2 separate regions of the Homo sapiens genome follow, and region 1 is linked to region 2. The links come from fine-mapping of genetic effects on gene expression. A gene starts in region 2. The other region holds a variant in brackets. All regions are shown on one strand. Distances are between the middles of the regions. Region 1 overlaps NIPAL2 (NIPA like domain containing 2). Region 2 holds the start of NIPAL2 (NIPA like domain containing 2).

The links. PIP is the estimated chance that this variant, and not a neighbour inherited with it, causes the effect.
Region 1: its variant is fine-mapped to the expression of NIPAL2 in whole blood (INTERVAL, PIP 0.98).

Annotation. Positions count from the first base shown.
Region 1 is chr8:98,239,432-98,247,431 of GRCh38, forward strand. All of the region lies in intron 3 of NIPAL2 (NIPA like domain containing 2), which reads right to left. All of the region lies in intron 2 of NIPAL2-AS1 (NIPAL2 antisense RNA 1), which reads left to right. Among named protein-coding and RNA genes, the nearest start is that of NIPAL2, 51 kb to the right of the region's middle. The variant A/G (reference allele first, on the strand shown) is at 3,204.
Region 2 is chr8:98,290,778-98,299,724 of GRCh38, forward strand. NIPAL2 (NIPA like domain containing 2) reads right to left here and starts at 3,458. Exons shown (of 11, transcript NM_001321635.2): 1 at 3,226-3,458. The coding sequence starts at 3,360. All of the region lies in intron 5 of LOC105375659 (a long non-coding RNA gene), which reads left to right. RefSeq lists a silencer at 2,978-3,697.

The DNA of each region.
Region 1 (8,000 bases), 52 kb before region 2:
ACTTTCAGAAGGAGGAGGGGAAAATGTTATATGGGAAATAATTTCATTGCTAAAAGCAAAAAGGACATGATTGGTAACAAAAAACTGGAAATACACTACTTGTATCAAATTATATCAATTGCTATAAAACAATTGTCAGAATTTTATGAAACATAAATATGCTACTCTTCCTTTCTGAAAGATAATAGAAGTCTAATGCACTTCCACATTCAGCCAATAACATTTTTTTTCTGTTTTAAGAGAACTTGAGATTTTCTACAAAATTTTTAGGTAATAGAACAAGATTTTTTAGTTTTATTTATCTAGTAAAAAAGGCAAGAAAAAAAGAACATTCTATTAAGATACATTTACTTTCAACTCATTTATCTTGCAAATATGCTAAAATGAGAGCTGTGTTGAGCAAAAAGGCAGTATTGAGCAACAGCTAATAACATGACTTTTAAGTAGAGTAGTAAGTTTTTCAAATGAGAAAAACATCAACTGAAGTACTCGCATATATGTTTGTAATCAGAGGTCTATCAAGCCCAACACTTTCTAGTAGTTGCTATCACAATAACCATTGCCTAATGAACACCTAGAAAAGGGGAAAATCTATTATACTTTTATTCCTATAGTAAAATTTAATATTCAAAAATAGAGCATTTCAAGATTAATCACTTAAAAAGCATGAAAACAGAACATAGCTGTAAATTAAACAGATTTGTACTAGTTATGGTTAAACCATAGTTATGACTGGATATTTACTTAAGCAATCAATTGTGTGTGCATTTTTGGTTTGAGACATGTTTGGGCAGAGACTCATGAATGCTTTTCCCTCTGGCCTTCAGAAGACATGGGTCTACAGAGAGTGCTCACTGATCTTGGTGCTTTATTAAAAAGTACTTTTTCGGGGGGAAAACTGATGTAAGAAAAACCAGGAGGAAGATGCGGGCTCTCCTAAGCACACAATAGTCCTAGCAGGTTAATAAAATGTCCCTGATTCAGACAGGCTATTTTCCCAGCCAAAACTCACTGCCCATAGTCAGTGAACTGTTATTCTTGGCAGGTGGGAGATGTTTATAAAATGTGACACCCTTTCCCTACAAGCTTATCAACAAGTGATGGCGGATGGTGCTATTGCAGTTGTCCAAGAATCATCTTATCTTGGGGCCGATATATAAAATTTGCAAAAGGGGGTCTAATCTGAGCTGAGCTGTCTTCAACTCATCCTTACTTCATTATTCTTAAGGAAATGCTCTATTGGAAAGGCTAAGGCTGATTCATGAGAATGCTGGGAAGTGGAATATGGACAGGAATTAGCCAAAAAGACTTCCCTACTGTTTTGTTACTCAGAGTATCACTCCAGGTGAAAAGAAGAAGGTCCTGTTGAAGAACTGAAGTTCCACAATACTGCCTAGGTGGCCGGGTGCTGGGCTGGGATGTAGAACACCTGGGTTTGAGTGTTGCTCTGTCCAGAACCAGCTATGGAATACAGCACATGTTAATGTGCTAGCCTCGGTTTTATTTCCTCAACCGGTGAAAGGAAGCATTTGTGCTTCGTCCTTTCTAATTATTCTCCTTGCTTGAACATTTTATAAACAGTCAGTTACTAGAAATAAGAGTGCATGGACCAAGCTGTGCTCTTTGTGTTTTCCCAGGTGGCTTTGAGTATTTGAGGGAAAAGAGACAGGTCCTCTGTTTTCCAAGATGACCATGGTCTATGTGTGTAGGTATAACTGAAAACACCAAGATTTGACACAGCATCTTTTCTTTACTTAGTGATGATATGTGTGAACAGGTATACCCACCAGTATGCAAAGAAACACAACCCCAGTGGATAAATGAATGGGCAGGAACACAAGTAATTCACAAATGAGAGTAGACAAACACATAGGGGAAAGTCCAAATCATCAGTAATAAAGATAATTTAGAGCCAGGTGCTCTTTTCCACACACAATTTTAAGGCTGAGTATTGACAAGGAAGAAGTAAAGTCAGTACTCCCTCACATTGCTAGAGTCACTGTAAATTGATAGAAACTTTCTGATGAGTGATTTTACAATATCTATCAACAGCATCAAACTATTCAAATTCTTTGATCTAGTAATTCTGCATCTGTGAATCTGTCCTAAGGAAGTATTCCAAAAAATGGAGAGTCTCAAGCCTAAAGGTGTCAATTGCAAAATTATTTTTCATAGTGGAAAACTGGAATAATCTAAACGTTCAGCAATAATCAGTAGGATATTATGCAGCTAATAGAAATTATTATGGAAAATTACACAGTGATATTGATAATTTTATGCTATTATGTTAAAAGAGGTAGAAAATTATATTTATACAATGATTATGACAGGAAAATATATACACAATAAGGGTGGCTGAATATTCTACTTATTAAGGGTTTGACACGGAATAATTAACTCTTTCTATCCTCCCAGCGTCTCAATGAGATAGTTGGCATTGTTATACTCATTTTACAGATAAAAAAGCTGAGGCTTGGAGAGTTTAAGTTTATTACACAATGTCACACAGTGACTCCAGAGTCAGGCACTAGACCACAATGGCCATAATGCATTAAAAAAATAAAAGGTGAAAGGTAATACACCATTGGTATACCATGGCATAAAAGGCAAAAGGTAATGTACCATTGATAATATACCAATTTATCAAATTTCCTTTAGACAGGAGGAATAAGTTTTAGCGATCTATTGCACAGCATGGTGACCCAGTTAATAGTGATACATATTTCAAAATTCCTAAAAGAGTAGATTTTAAAAGTTCTTTTTTTTGAGACAGGGTCTCCTTCTGTTGCCCAGGCTGGAGTGCAGTGGCGCAACCATGGCTCGCTGCAGCCTCGACCTCCTGAGCTCACGTGATTCTCCCACCTCAGCCTCCCAAGGAGCTGGGACTATAGGCAATACCGTGTACTAACACGCCTGGCTAGTTTTTAATTTTTTTTGTAGAGACAGAGTCTCACTATGTTGCCCAGGCTGGTCTCAAACGTCTGGGCTCAATTGATTCTCCTACTTTGGCCTTCCAAAGTGCTGAGATTACAGGCAAAAGCCACTGCACCTGACAGATTTTTTTTTTTTTTTTTTTAACTGAGCCTGGCTCTGTCACCCAGGCTGGAGTGCATTGGCGATCTCAGCTCACTGCAACTTCCGCTTCCCAAGTTCGAGCGATTCTCCTGCCTCAGCCTCCTGAGTAGCTGGGGCTATAGGAGCCC[A/G]CCACTATGCCCGGCTAATTTTTGTATTTTTAGTAGAGATGGGGTTTCACTATATTGGCCAGGCTGGTTCTGAGCTCCTAACCTCGTGATCCTCCCGCCTTGGCCTCGCAAAGTGCTACGATTACAGGAGTGAGCCACCGCGCCCGGTCTTTTGCCTAAATATTCTTAACCATACAAAATGAGAAGTCGATGAGATGATAAATATGTTAATTAGCCTGATGTAATGTTTCTACAGCATATACAACTATCAAAACACCACACTGTACCCCATAAACATATAAAATTATTTGTCAATTAAAACAATTTTAAAAATTACGTTAAAAAATAAAAAAGTTTGAAAAGATAACATGCCAAAACCCAAAGGGTGGTTCTGTAGGAGTCATGGGGGGCAGGGCGGAGGAAGACAGCAGGAATACTATCCGTAAGGGGAAAGGACATGCAACCTTCTTCTAGTGTTTCCTTTGGTGCAAAATGGTACCTCCATGGAGCAGTCTAATGTATTTAATGCATCCAGTTGCCCTTGAAGCTCTAATGCTTTAAGGAAGCTTTTCAGCAGCAATTGCTGACTGCTGACTGTGGACTGACTCCTATTGGTGAGTCATCTGTTCTTTTGGCTATTAAGTGTCACTTAGGTTGGCAATCAAAATGGAGATTCATTCTGTTCAAGGTTCATATAAGGAAACGTACACTTGGGCATTTGGATTCAGGTTTCCAGATGAAAATAGATAAAATAAAGGCCAAGCAAGTTTCCGGTGCCTTCCAAACCATGTCTAGATGTGGGGGAGGGTGCCAGTCCCAGAGCGAGGTATGTGTCTTGGTGTTGCACTTCCTCGTGCTTCTTGATTTACTTAGGAATCAACCCTCGGTTTGTCCTTCATTCACCTACTCTCTGAAATCCTTCAGTTTATGAGACTCGGTCCAAGACCAGCTCTTATTATGGAAGAGTTACTTGATGCTCTAAGACCCATAGCAGGCCACAAGAGAGAAAAAGCCAACCATAAATTAACCTGATGCATGAGTATTCAGAAAAGTTGTAAATACTTGGTTTGAGGTTCTTCTGTAATAGCTACTAATGTGGATTAATAAATGAGAAGTTAAATACCAAACTTCTCTGTTAGCAATTTAGCTCAAGGGCAGATTTTTACATGTCAGTTTAGAACCCTGTGTCTGTAGAATAAGAGGTAAATGGGCATTCCCTTTTTAAATTTGTAACATTAAGACATATGTGTGCTTTTTATTTAAACTCTCTTCCCCTAAAATAATAATTTTTTATTAAAAGCTTAATGGTACATAAGACTGTTCAATAACTGTTTCAATGTTTAGGGCATGGCTATTTTTAAATGATTTTGTTCACTTTGTTTATTTCTTTCTGTTTTTTTACCCTTTATTATCACTTCTTAAAGACAAATCTAACCCAAAGCTAAGACAATCAATTAATTATACTTTACTCAAATGTGATTATGGATATGATATTCTTATCTGATTCAGCTGGGGAGAAAAAGAACGTTTGGTTGACAGGTTACAAACTCAAATGCCTATAAGGGCCTTTAAGGTAATCCTCTGAAGACAAAAAAAAAAATGAGGGGGGTGTGGGCCACAGTAATAAGGGGGATGGGCTCTGGTGATGAAGACGGTGGGCGTGGTGATGAGAGGTAGTCTGTAATGATGAGAGGGTGGGCGTGGTGATGAGGGGTAGTCTGTAATGATGAGAGGGTGGGCGTGGTGATGAGGGGTAGTCTGTAATGATGAGAGGGTGGGCGTGGTGATGAGGGGTAGTCTGCAATGATGAGGGGGTGGGCTGTGGTGATGAGGGAGGTGGGCGTGGTGATGGGGGTAGGCTGTAATGATGAGGGGGTGGGTTGTGGTGATGAGCGGGTAGGCTGTGATAAGGGGGGTGGGCTGTGATGATGAGAGGGTGGGCTGTGATAAGGGGGGTGCGCTGTGGTGATGAGAGGGTGGGCTGTGGTGATGAGAGGGTGGGCTGTGGTGATGGGGGGTGCTGGCCATGGTGGTGATGGGCTGTGGGGCCGTGGTGAACTATTCAAGATCAGTGAAAGGTGGCACTCCTGAATCAGCCTTAGCCAACTGCAAATCCAGCACTACCAAATCTGATTCTTTAGCCAAAAATTCAGTTTTGTGTGTGTGTTATTGTCCAATTTTTACCCATAGGAAATTAATTAGTATTCTTTAAAAGCATTGTTTGAGCCAGTCAAAACATGGGCCAACTCTGGTCTACAGGCAAGTTTGTGAACTCTAATCTAGCCTACAAATAAAAATTTCATCCATTTTCATTTCCTGGACATTCAATTTATTACGTCATCTCTGTGATATAAAGAGAAACCAGGATGTATATTTATAATATAGGAAAATAGAAGATAAAACACTAAGGAAAACTCTCTCTTATAAAAAGAAAATAACCCATGACATGAAAAGAACATATTTACATAATAATGCTACAAACAGAACCTCACATGTAAATATCTGGCTTGTGGTTTCTGACCACTTATAATGGCAACTTTATTGTACTGCTAAAAAGCAAACCACAAAAACACTTTCATGTCAGTCACAATCAAGCTCCAAACACGTGGACACATCGAGCGTGCTCACAGGCAGAGTCAACTCTAACCATATTGAGGTACTACTACATAATTATCATTCCCCGTTAGTTGTAGAACTTTAGGAAAAGAGGTATGTCAATTACAATGTATTCCATGGAATTAAGATTTGAATATCTGAGGATATGTCAGTTTGAAAAATGTCATCTTACAGCGGGAAAAGTTCTACCATTCATGTTGGCAGGAAGAAAAGTGTCAAGTAATTCATGTTGATTAAAAAAATTGCTATTGTCATTTACTGAAGATAATGAAGGAACTGTCGTTCAGAGACAATTTGCATAATTTCAAACGAGGGAACTTACCTGGATTAAGAACAATAATCCTTTCTTTTCTACATTTTTCTTGGCATGCGTTAATGTTAAAGTTGAAAAGACTCCAAAAAAGTAAAAATACTACCACTGACTAGATTAATTCTGTATTACAAATTTAATTGTGTGTTACTTCATCATTAGCAGCCTCTCTAGAAATACTCTTGTGGCATGCTGAAAAAATAAGGATGAGTGGAAAAGATGTTTCAAATAAAGTGTTTAGGCTTCAGGAATGCTTTCTGCTGAGCGTATATGAGCAGACATAGATTAAAACTTCAGAGTTTTATTTCACACATTTTATGTAGGCTGGTTTTTGGACAAACACGCAAAAGCAGATAACTCATCAAGCCACTAAGAAAAGTGATATTTTCTGCATATCTTGAACATTAAAATCAATGTCCGTGTGAAGTGACACTATCACAGGCATCCTGTGAGGTTTTAGAGTTCCGGTGACCTCATCCAGGCTGGCAGTAAGCACACTGCTCTAAGGGACAAAGAGAATTCGCAGCATCTAGGTTTGTGTAACGCTATGGGTCACTTGCTCATTGGTCTGTTTATGTTTCCTTTCATTTGTTTCTAATAAAAATCTTGGAGACCAAAGTTTCTCCTTGACATGATTTCTTTGGAATTCCAAAAGGCCTCACCAGGGCTTCCTGGCTCTGCTATGACCGTCGTCTAATGGATTACAGATACATTTCAGTTTAGGGCTTCATAACAGCACCACAGAAATACACAAAACAACATGTATTCCACATCATGAATTTTGATTTGAGCAAAAACCAGCATATTGGGGAAAATTAGAGATGGAAAAGACTTATCAGACTCATGCTCTCCTCATTTTCTCAGTGCAGTTAGCTCTCCAACCTTAATACAAATTAGCTCAGTAACAGTGCGACTACTTCTCTTAGGAACTTACTCTAGGGCCATGGAGATCTTGCTGCTATTATCTTTCCATACAAAATTTCAAGTGCTTAATTTAATATAATTTATCCCAAAGTCAATCTATTTATTACTCATTTCCATTCAGCTGGGCAATGATTGAGGTAATGAGTTTATGTGTCTCATACCTGGCATAGTGGATGCTCATTCAATATTAGTTTCTTACCTTTATTACTTTGTCTAAAGTATTGCCCGAATTTAACTTGGAAAAAGCTGATATGTTCTTGCACTCTTTTCTAGTTACTTTTAATCAATATACTCAGAGGCATAGAACTGAAAAATGTCACCGGTGCTTCCATCACATTCTATTTCTCCCTCCCTCCCTCCTTGCCCCTGCAATGATCTCCCTCCATATCCCACTTCCTTGCCGCCCCATAGACAAGTTAATTTTATACTGAGAGAAGTCTGCCATGAAGCTATTTAATTCCATGTGGCTTCAATTCTTTGGATTGTTGATAACTTCATTGTTTTTAATCATCTCTAAATGTTTAGGCATAGCATAGATCACAGTCATGGGGATAAACAGAAAAAGGAAAACATTAAATGTAAGCCCACGCTTTGGAGATGCACAAATAACTGAACTCAATCCCCAAAGGACAGGCTTATAGACCTATGAGTGTTCACAAGCATGAATATTCATGAGTCTCTTGCAATGAACTGTTTAACCACCGTGCTTCATTAGGAATTGAAATCTTTTAAGCAAGTATTTATCTCTTCCAACACCCTAGAACGGAACATCCTATCCTTGTTTTGTCAAAATTCAAATTTGAACCAATTCTGCAGGCTGCATTTTGTGATTTCCCCGTGCTGTGCTCTCCCAGGAAGGGCAAATGTCAAGCAACGAGACACACAGTCAGTCACCAGTCCCCTGGGTCTCAGTTAAATGGTGAGGAAGGACATGAAACAGGTCATTGTGCGCATGCTGAGAGGTGCCA
Region 2 (8,947 bases):
AAGAAAAGAGAACCAAGAGAGCTGCAGCGGGGAGCACAGCTTGCTTTAAACATGAGATCCAGCTCAGTGATCATGCGGGGGAAAAGGCCCGGCATTGCTGGAACTCCTAATATTTAAAAAGATGATGGAAACTTGAAATTTTATATTTAATCTTCTCATTTTTAAGTGTTGGCAATGTATTGAAGACTTTGAAGCCTCTCTGCTGGTCAAACAAGATGTATCTGTAGGCTGGATTTAGTCCACAGCTGGCCAGTTTGAAAACTGAATCCTGCTAGCCTTAATTTAAATTTTTTTAAATTTAATTTGCTTTGATTCCTGCACTCCTGCTCAAAAAAATCTTCAATGGCTCCCCACTGTCTGCAAGGTAAAGTCCAAACTTTGTCACCAGTCCTTCAAAGCAACCCATGACTATATCCAAGACCCCAAACCATATTTCTACCTTATAGTCAGTCTCCATCTTCCACCGCAACCAGAATGATAGTTGAATTGTACTCTAGGAAGGAAAATATTCAGAAAGGCACCAGTCCTGGCCATGAGGGCTGCTTCTGGGTCCCTAAGCTTTTTCCTTTCCTGCAGTGCCCTACACTGTGCATGCCTATCAATGAAACCCTGTCCATCATTAACCATCCAGCTCAAATACCACCTCTCCACAAAACATCCCTGATGGCCCAGCCAAATGCCCCTTTGCTCTGAATTTCCATGGGACTTTATATCACTCACATGACACTTACAACATACTGCCTTGTTTTGGCATTACCTACATAGCTCATTTTCCCAAACACCTAATAATATTCACAGAAGGAAGAGTTTGGGTTTTGCACTATATTGAATATCCCTGTAGTGCTTTGTACATAGCATGGAGCTCAATAAACATCTTGGGAACATTATCCTTCTCTACTGAAAACTTGTGGATCAAACATAAAGTGCCTTTTGTTTACCTGTCACAACTCCATCACTTCTATACTTCTATAGGCCAGGCTTTTCACCAAGCACACAGCGTCTGAGTAGTGCAAAGGGCAAAGACTTCACTTCCCTGCTCCTAAGACATCTTCCCCCACTGAACTACTACTTTTGAGTTGCTTTGAGGTTTCTTCCTCCAGAAGCACTCACACCTTTGTCTTAGACAACATTGATTCTAAGTGGCCACTGTTAAACATGTATTACATGAAAGCATTCCAGGGAAGTTTGTCTTTTTCTATGTAGTAAGGTTAATTGATCAGATTTGATGATAATCACTTTGGAAGGGATAAAGGGACAGAGAACTAGGCTATCAGCCAACACACACTGTGCAAATATTTTAGTTGTGATAAAACCAATGGAGGCAAGCAAATAAGCATCATTAAGCTGTGGCTAGTTAGCAACCAACATTCATTTTGATTGTGGGAGTGACACATTTATATCTCACACTTTGTTTTTCTGTATCCACACCCATTTTCAGCCATTTCTATTCAGTGTCAAAAAAGACAAGAAAAATTAGACTCAATTTTATTTTTACTGGCCTGGACAACACCAGAGGCACTCAATAAAATGCTTCTCGAGTAAACTTTTTAAAAATTAATTTTTACTTTTGCTTAACACAAATGCAATTACTGAAAAGATAAAATACCACCATCTTATAAGAGGGCCTAAATTTGCACAATAATGGCAAAACTTGATACAGTTTTATCTCAAACCAGCAAAGTTTAGATGTCAGCTCAGTAATTTCAATTAGCACATTCTGGATACATCCTTTCTAACCTGTACAAATACACACTGTCAAAGGCAAATTAAGCCTTGCAAACAGTATTTATTTGCCTCACATTTATGTCACATGATAATCTGTGTTTGGATATCAGACAGCCAAGACAATCAAGAATTCCAGGAAATGTCAAAGAAAACTAATGACTACAGAGGTTTCCACTGTGAAAACAATGTCCTGTTTTTGGATGATCACATCTGCTAACCCTCTATTTTTTTTTTTTTTTTAATCAAGAGGGGATAGATAACTCATTCTTAAACTTATATTGGGAATACTTCTAATAAAAGAATAATATAATAGATAGATTCAAGTTCCCATAAAAATGATGCTTTTCTTTGTAATTCCTGTGGGTAGAAGAAAGGAGAAATGGGGTTGGATTACAAACATTGATCAAGAGGCTCTGAGTACCCTCATTTTTCCTATTTTTATATCTTTTATGATGAAATGACTTAAAGCAATACTCTCCCCTCTTGAAAACTAATAAAGTGAACATGCTTATTTATCTTACTTATTCTTTATACAAATATATTCTCTTCTGCATTCAGAAATTAATATTTAGAACACTTCAGGCATAAAAGGAATCCAGATCTTTGATAATTGGTTAAACTCTCCGATTTAGGACAACAGCAACAAATATTTTCTGATTATATTGTTGCAAAAATAAAAGTATCCATGGTTTTGTTAAAGAACAAGAACAAAGTAACACATTTAATGAAAACAGGAGGAAGCCTGGAATCCACCGTGATAAAACTTAGTTGCAATATGAACGCTGCTAGAGGAAGGGCTGGCCAGAACACTTCCTCATCTTAAACCAAGCCAAAAATAAATGGGCGGCTCCAAGTCCCTTTGATTTTGTTAAATGTATATTTCCAGTGTAAACTGGCGTTGTTTAAGTTAACAAAGTTTTCCCAAAGGGCCGGTGGGAAAGAATGAGAGTCCTGCAAATGCAACCTGAGAAAATGTGTTCCTCGCACGGAAATGGAAGAGCTGTGTTGAGATACCAGGGACACACGCAGGGCATCTGCGCGAGGTGACATTAGGCTGCCCTTAATGAGTTTTCTGCTTCTGATAACAGGGTGTCACTTTTTTCTTTTCTTTTAACTGTAAAAGGATCCTGGGGTGAAAATGAGTGAATTGCCCCCACACTCCTAGATTCCTTCCGGGAGAAGAGGGCGGACGCAGGCTGGGGAGGCGGGATCGGGACCCGGAGGTCCCAGGAACGGGTGGCTGAGGTCAAGGCCGAAGACCTGGGCGCCCACTCCCAGTGCCGGGTGCCCGGGAGAGGAAGACTGGGCGGACCCCCGCGCTTCCGGATGAGGCGGACTTAGGTCAATGCGGGAAACATTGCATGTCACCTCTTCCCACTCGGAGAGGCCGGGTGTCTTCCTGAGAGCTGGCAGGAAAGCGGCCGAGGCGCAGAGGCGCCCGGAGCCAGCCGCCCTGGCCGCGTCCCCACCGGGCTGCGGTGGCTGCGGGGCGGCCCTTACCTGGTTCCTGCGGTACCAGTCGCCCGAGAGGGAGCCGTTGCCGGCGCCTGGTGCCCCGTACGTGAAATTCAGTGACAGCTCGTCCAGGGCGGCCGAGGCGGAGTCCCCGGGGCCCGCGGGCGCCACCGCTGCCATGAGGTCTCGCTCCCGGCGCTCGGGCTCCGGCTCGGGCTGCGGCCGCCTCCCCGCCCTGTTGCACCGCGAGGAGGCCGCGCCGCAGCCACTTCCTGCTCGGTGCCCGGGCGAGGCGGGCGCGCCGAGGCCACCTGGCTCCCGCCCCCGCGCGGCCGTAGGTGCTCCCAGCCTGGCCGGGCGCTGCCTCCTCTCCTCCTCCGGTGCGAGGTGTCCTCGGGGAGCCCGGCGGTCTGCGGCCTCCCGGGGCCGTCCAGCTCGCACCGCGCCCTCCTTCCGCTGGGCCAGTGTCTGCATCCTCGGGGCCGCACTGCCCAAGGGGGCAATCCCCGCGGCCGTCCGCAACGGGTCCCCGCGCCTGTCGGGGCCAGAATCAGATCATCTCCGTTGTAAACATTTGTCCAAGTCAATGGAAGAGGAGGAGACACTGACTAACCCAAAGCAGCTATCATCTCCCATCTCTACCTGGCAATTCCAGTCCTCTATCACATATGTAGTGTTTCTCACCGATATTTTAAAAATTGATTGCATATGAAAAAGTCATGAGTTCCCAGAAATATTGTAAGCAATATGAGAAAAAAAGATCCGAGCGATTGAATCTCAGTGCCAGTGCTTGATAGATCCTTAGTAAATATTCCTTGAATGAGGAATGTGGTAGCCATAGGACCCCAGTGTGCGATGACTGGATTGGGTTTGCTTCAGATGGGATCAGGTGGAGTTGCTGAAAAGTTGCCAGCTACTGTATATATGAATTTAGGATGAAAGATAAATGTTGTTATTAATCTTAAGAACTCTAACGAGATGTTCTGGTTTTACCTGTATTCAAATTCTAATGTGTGACCACAAATGATCTGTAGGGTATTTCTCACTTTAAAAAAACCATGATTCTATACTGTTGCCTGAAGGCTGATAGTTGCCTTCTTTTGTTTACACAATGCTGAGGTTTTTCTTAGATAATGTGCTTTGACTTCCATGAGTTCATGAAAGAGAGACCTTCAAGAAAAGAGAATTGCTGCCTAGAAGGGAGCAGGGACAGTTTTCAGTGTTTCTTAGGGGAAATGTGCAAATGAGAGAAAAGAGTGAGAAAAAGTCATTTCACATACAGAAAAAACAAGACATGTCGTCTCAGAAATTGTGTAGTTTCTTGCTTAAGCACTCGAGATGTTCAGTGAACAGCTAACAATTGTAGGTAACTATTCCCAATTTTAAGAGGCTGATTTACTTCAAATAAATATCTGAAGGAAAAAGGTCTCTATTTGTTATATTACATTTTATTTTATTTTTTGAGACAGGGTCTTGCTCTGTTGCCCAGGCTGGAGTGCAGTGGTGTGATCTTGACTCACTTTAGCCTCATATTCCTGGGCCCAAGTGATCCTCCCACCTGGGACTACATACAGGTGCATGCCACCATGCCCAGCTAATTTTTTTTTTTTTTAGATAGAGTCTCTCTCTCTTGCCCAGGCTGCAGTGCAGTGGCACAATCTCAGCTCACTGCAACCTCTGCCTCCTGGGTTCAAACAATGCTCCTGCCTCAGCCTCCTGAGTAGCTGGGACTACACGTGCACACCACCAAGCCCGGCTAATTTTTGTATTTTTAGTAGAGACAGGGTTTCACGGTGTTGGTCAGGCTGGCCTCAAGCTCCTAACCTCCAGTGATCCCCCTGTCTTGGCCTCCCAAAGTGCTGGGATTACAGGTGTGAGCCACCACACCTGGCCCTGGCTAATATTTTTCTATTTTTTTGTAGGGACAGGGTCTCGCAATTTTTCCTAGGCTGGTCTAGAACTCCTGGCCTCAAACAGTTGTCCCACCTCGGCCTCCCAAAGTGGTGGGATTACAGGTGTGAGCTGCCATGCCTTGTCTGATAAGTTTTCTATAACATCACATTCATTGATATTGGTGACTTCATTAATGCTTCTTTCTCTTCACATGCTTTAGGGTGCAAGTAACAGAGTATCCAAATAAAAGTGGCTTAAACAATAATTATCTGCTATCTCCAGAGGAATGTGTCTCTATGTGGTTCTATTATGTCGTCACTTCCACCTTTCTGCTCTGCTATCCCTGAGGTACTGGTCTTGTCCATTGAGGGAGGAAAGCCTTTTCCAGAATCCTCCTGGCATCCTTTCACCTCAGATCCCATTGGCTGGGACTGGGTCACATGCCCATGTTCTACCAGCAAGGGAGGCTGGGAAAGTGATTCTTGGGTATTTCCAACCTAGTGAGAGGTAAGCTCTACCAACCAGGATGAGTGGGAATGCCATGGGGTTATGGGGGAGGGGAACCAGTCAACCCTGGTACAACCACTCTAGTATTTTTCTATCAGCCAGATTGTAAGTAGTTGTACAGTTGCTAACAAGCAAAATACTAAATGGATTGTGTTACTTTCTGGTTTAAAATGCCTTGAAGCCTCCCTATTGCCATAATGAAGTCCACACTTTTTTTTTTTTTGAGACAGAGTCTTGCTCTGTCACCCAGGCTGGAGTGCAGTGGCACAATCTCGGCTCACTGCAAGCTCCGCCTCCCGAGTTCACGCCATTCTCCTGCCTCAGCCTCCTGAGTAGCTGGGACTACAGATGCCCGCCACCACGCCCAGCTAATTTTTTGTATTTTTAGTAGAGTCTGGGTTTCATCGTGTTAGCCAGGATGGTCTCGATCTCCTGACCTCATGATCCACCCACCTCAGCCTCCCAAAGTGCTGGGATTACAGGCGTGAGTCACCACGCCCAGACAATTTTTTTTTTTTTTTAATTTTTTGTAGAGATGGGGTCTCATTATGTTTCCCAGGCTGGTCTAGAACTCCTGGCCTCAAACAATTCAGTGAGACTTCTGAATAAAACTAAGTTTAATTCTTTAAAAGCTTGATTTTTTTCCCTTTAGTTGATACTCTGCTATACTCAACTTGTTCCCATTTTATTTCTTAATTTAAAAAAACATTTTCAATTTCTTTACATTTGTTTAAAACCTCTAATTTTGGAGGAAGATGGTACATGATGCAGAGAAGATTTGATGTACAGCCTACCACGTGGTGTTCTCTAGATTCCAAGATGTCACTGCTGTTGCTGCTGTCCTAGTGTGTGTGGGTGGTTGAAACGAAGAATTCGTGACCAGCGTTCCTTCCCACACAGTTCACAAGGAGGCGGCAGGAATGCCATGTGAACTATTTTGGTCCCAGCAGTGTAGGCAGAGCTGTGGAGATTGTTCCGTACTTTGTGACGGCCTCTACCTCTCGTGGGATTTCTTCAGGGGATATCCTGTTCACTTTACGGGATGCCAAAAGCTAAAAAAAGGGCTGAAACGTGGAAGTCTGTCTTCCTCAGTTAATTTGAAGAACTCTACTCTGGTGCCAAATCATTTACTTAGAGAGCAGGGTTAGATTTTGCCTACCTTGCCTGGGATCAGTCACTGGCAGCATTAACAAAACAGCTTTTTTTTTTCTCTCAACTTTTTTTTTAGATACAGGGGTACATGTGCAGGTTTGTTACATGGGTTTCTTGCAACCAAGTAGTGAGCATAGTACCAGTAGGTAGTTTTTCCACCTGTGCCCTCCTCCTTCCCTCCCCTCTCTAGTAGTCCGCATTGTTGATTGTTCCCATGAATAAAATGTTTTTTTTAAAATTCATCTCTAGCACAATTCAGTCAATACTAGTTGTGTTACAATAAGCATTACTCAAGTTAGGAGCTTTTAAGGGGCCAAAGTAGAGAAGGGTATGGATTAATTCAGGTATCTCACATCATAAGCCAAGTCCAGATTAGAGACTTTGATGAGAGAGGCGAAACTTTGAATCTTATAGAATAACATATGACATCATCTCTATAAACAACAGTTTGGCAATTGTTAAAGTGCAAACACAAGGCAGACTGTCTGGGTTCAAATCCTGACTCCACTGCTTATTTGCTGTATGACCTCATCTAGTTGCTCAATTTCTCTGAGCCTTGTCTTTATCACCTGTAAAAGGGAGATGATAAGGAGTACCCGAAACATAGAAAGTACTCAATAGGTGCCGGCTATAACCTTACAATAGGGAAGCATCCCTTAAACAAATTAAAAAATACAATCCACATAGACAAAGATTCATAAGTGCAATTACAATAAAACTAAGAACTTTTTTTTTTTTCGAGACAGGGTCTTGCTCTGTTGCCCAGGCTGGAGTGCAGTGGTACAATTTTGGCAGGACGAAGTCTTGATCTCCCAGGCTCAATCCATCCTCCCACCTCAGCCTCATGAGTAGCTGGGACTACAGGCTCACACCATGACGCCCAGCTAATTTTTGGGTTTTTTTGTAGAAATGGGGTTTCACCATGTTGCCCAGGCTGGTCTCAAACTCCTGGGCTCAAGCAATCTGCCTACTTGGCCTCCCAAAGTGCGGGTTTACAGGCATGAGCCACCATGCCCAGCCAAACTAAGAACTTTTATACATCAATAGGCACCATAAAGTGTAAAAAGATAAGTCAGAAACTGAGAATCTTAATACAAAAATACTAGCCAGGCATGGTGGCGCATGCCTGTAGTCTCAGCTACTTGGGGAGGCTGAGGCAGGAGGATCACCTGAGCCCGGGAGGTCAAGGCTGCCCTGAGCTGTGATCATGCTACTACACTCCAGCCTGGGCAATAGAGTGAGACCCTGCCACAAAAAACAAAACAAAACAAAACAAAACAAAAGTCAAACTCAGAACTTTTATTTCTCATACATGTGACTGACCAAGGATTCACATCCAGAATATATAAATAACTCCTTCAGGTCAATAAGAAAAAGTCAGACAACTGGTAGAAAAATGGGCAAAAATATAAACAGGTGGTCTTCATAAGAAAAACTATAAATGGCTAATAAACATATAAAATACTTCCATTTCACCAGTAATCAGAAAAATACAAAATAATATCTCCAATGAGAACCATTTTACACCTGCTGGTTGGCAAAAAAAAAAATTTTTAATTTGCATACCAAGTGTTGATAAGGATGTGGAGCAAAAGAAACTCTTATTTAGTGCTGATGCTATTGACACTGGAAAGAGTTTGACAGTATTTGGTAAAGATGAAGATGTACATGTGAATTTCACTCTTATGTACATACCCCAGAGAAACTTCCGTACCTGGACAGCAGAAGAGATGTATAAGAATAACAGCACTCTTTGTAACAGCAAAACAAACAAACAAACAAACAAACAAACAAACAAAAAACTGGAAGCAGCTCAAATGTCCATTAGCAGGAATAGTGGGCAAATGAATTTTGATACATTTATATAATGGAACACAGCAATGAAATTACCTGAATGACAACCACCTAACAGCCACAGCAACATGGATGAATCCCACAAACATAATAATAGCAAATCCATAGAAGATTATATTCAGTATTATTCAAAAGCATGCAAAATTAGACAATATATTGTTTAGAAGTACATCTATCTATATGTGGGAAGACCTAATGAAAAGCAAAGGATAGACCAGGTGCTGTGGCTCATGCCTGTAATCCCAGCATTTTAGGAAGCGGAGGCGAGCTGATCATTTGAGCTCAGGAGTTCAAGACGAGCCTGGGCAACATGGTGAGATCTGTATAGGTACAGTGAGCCGTGATGGCTCCACTGCATTCT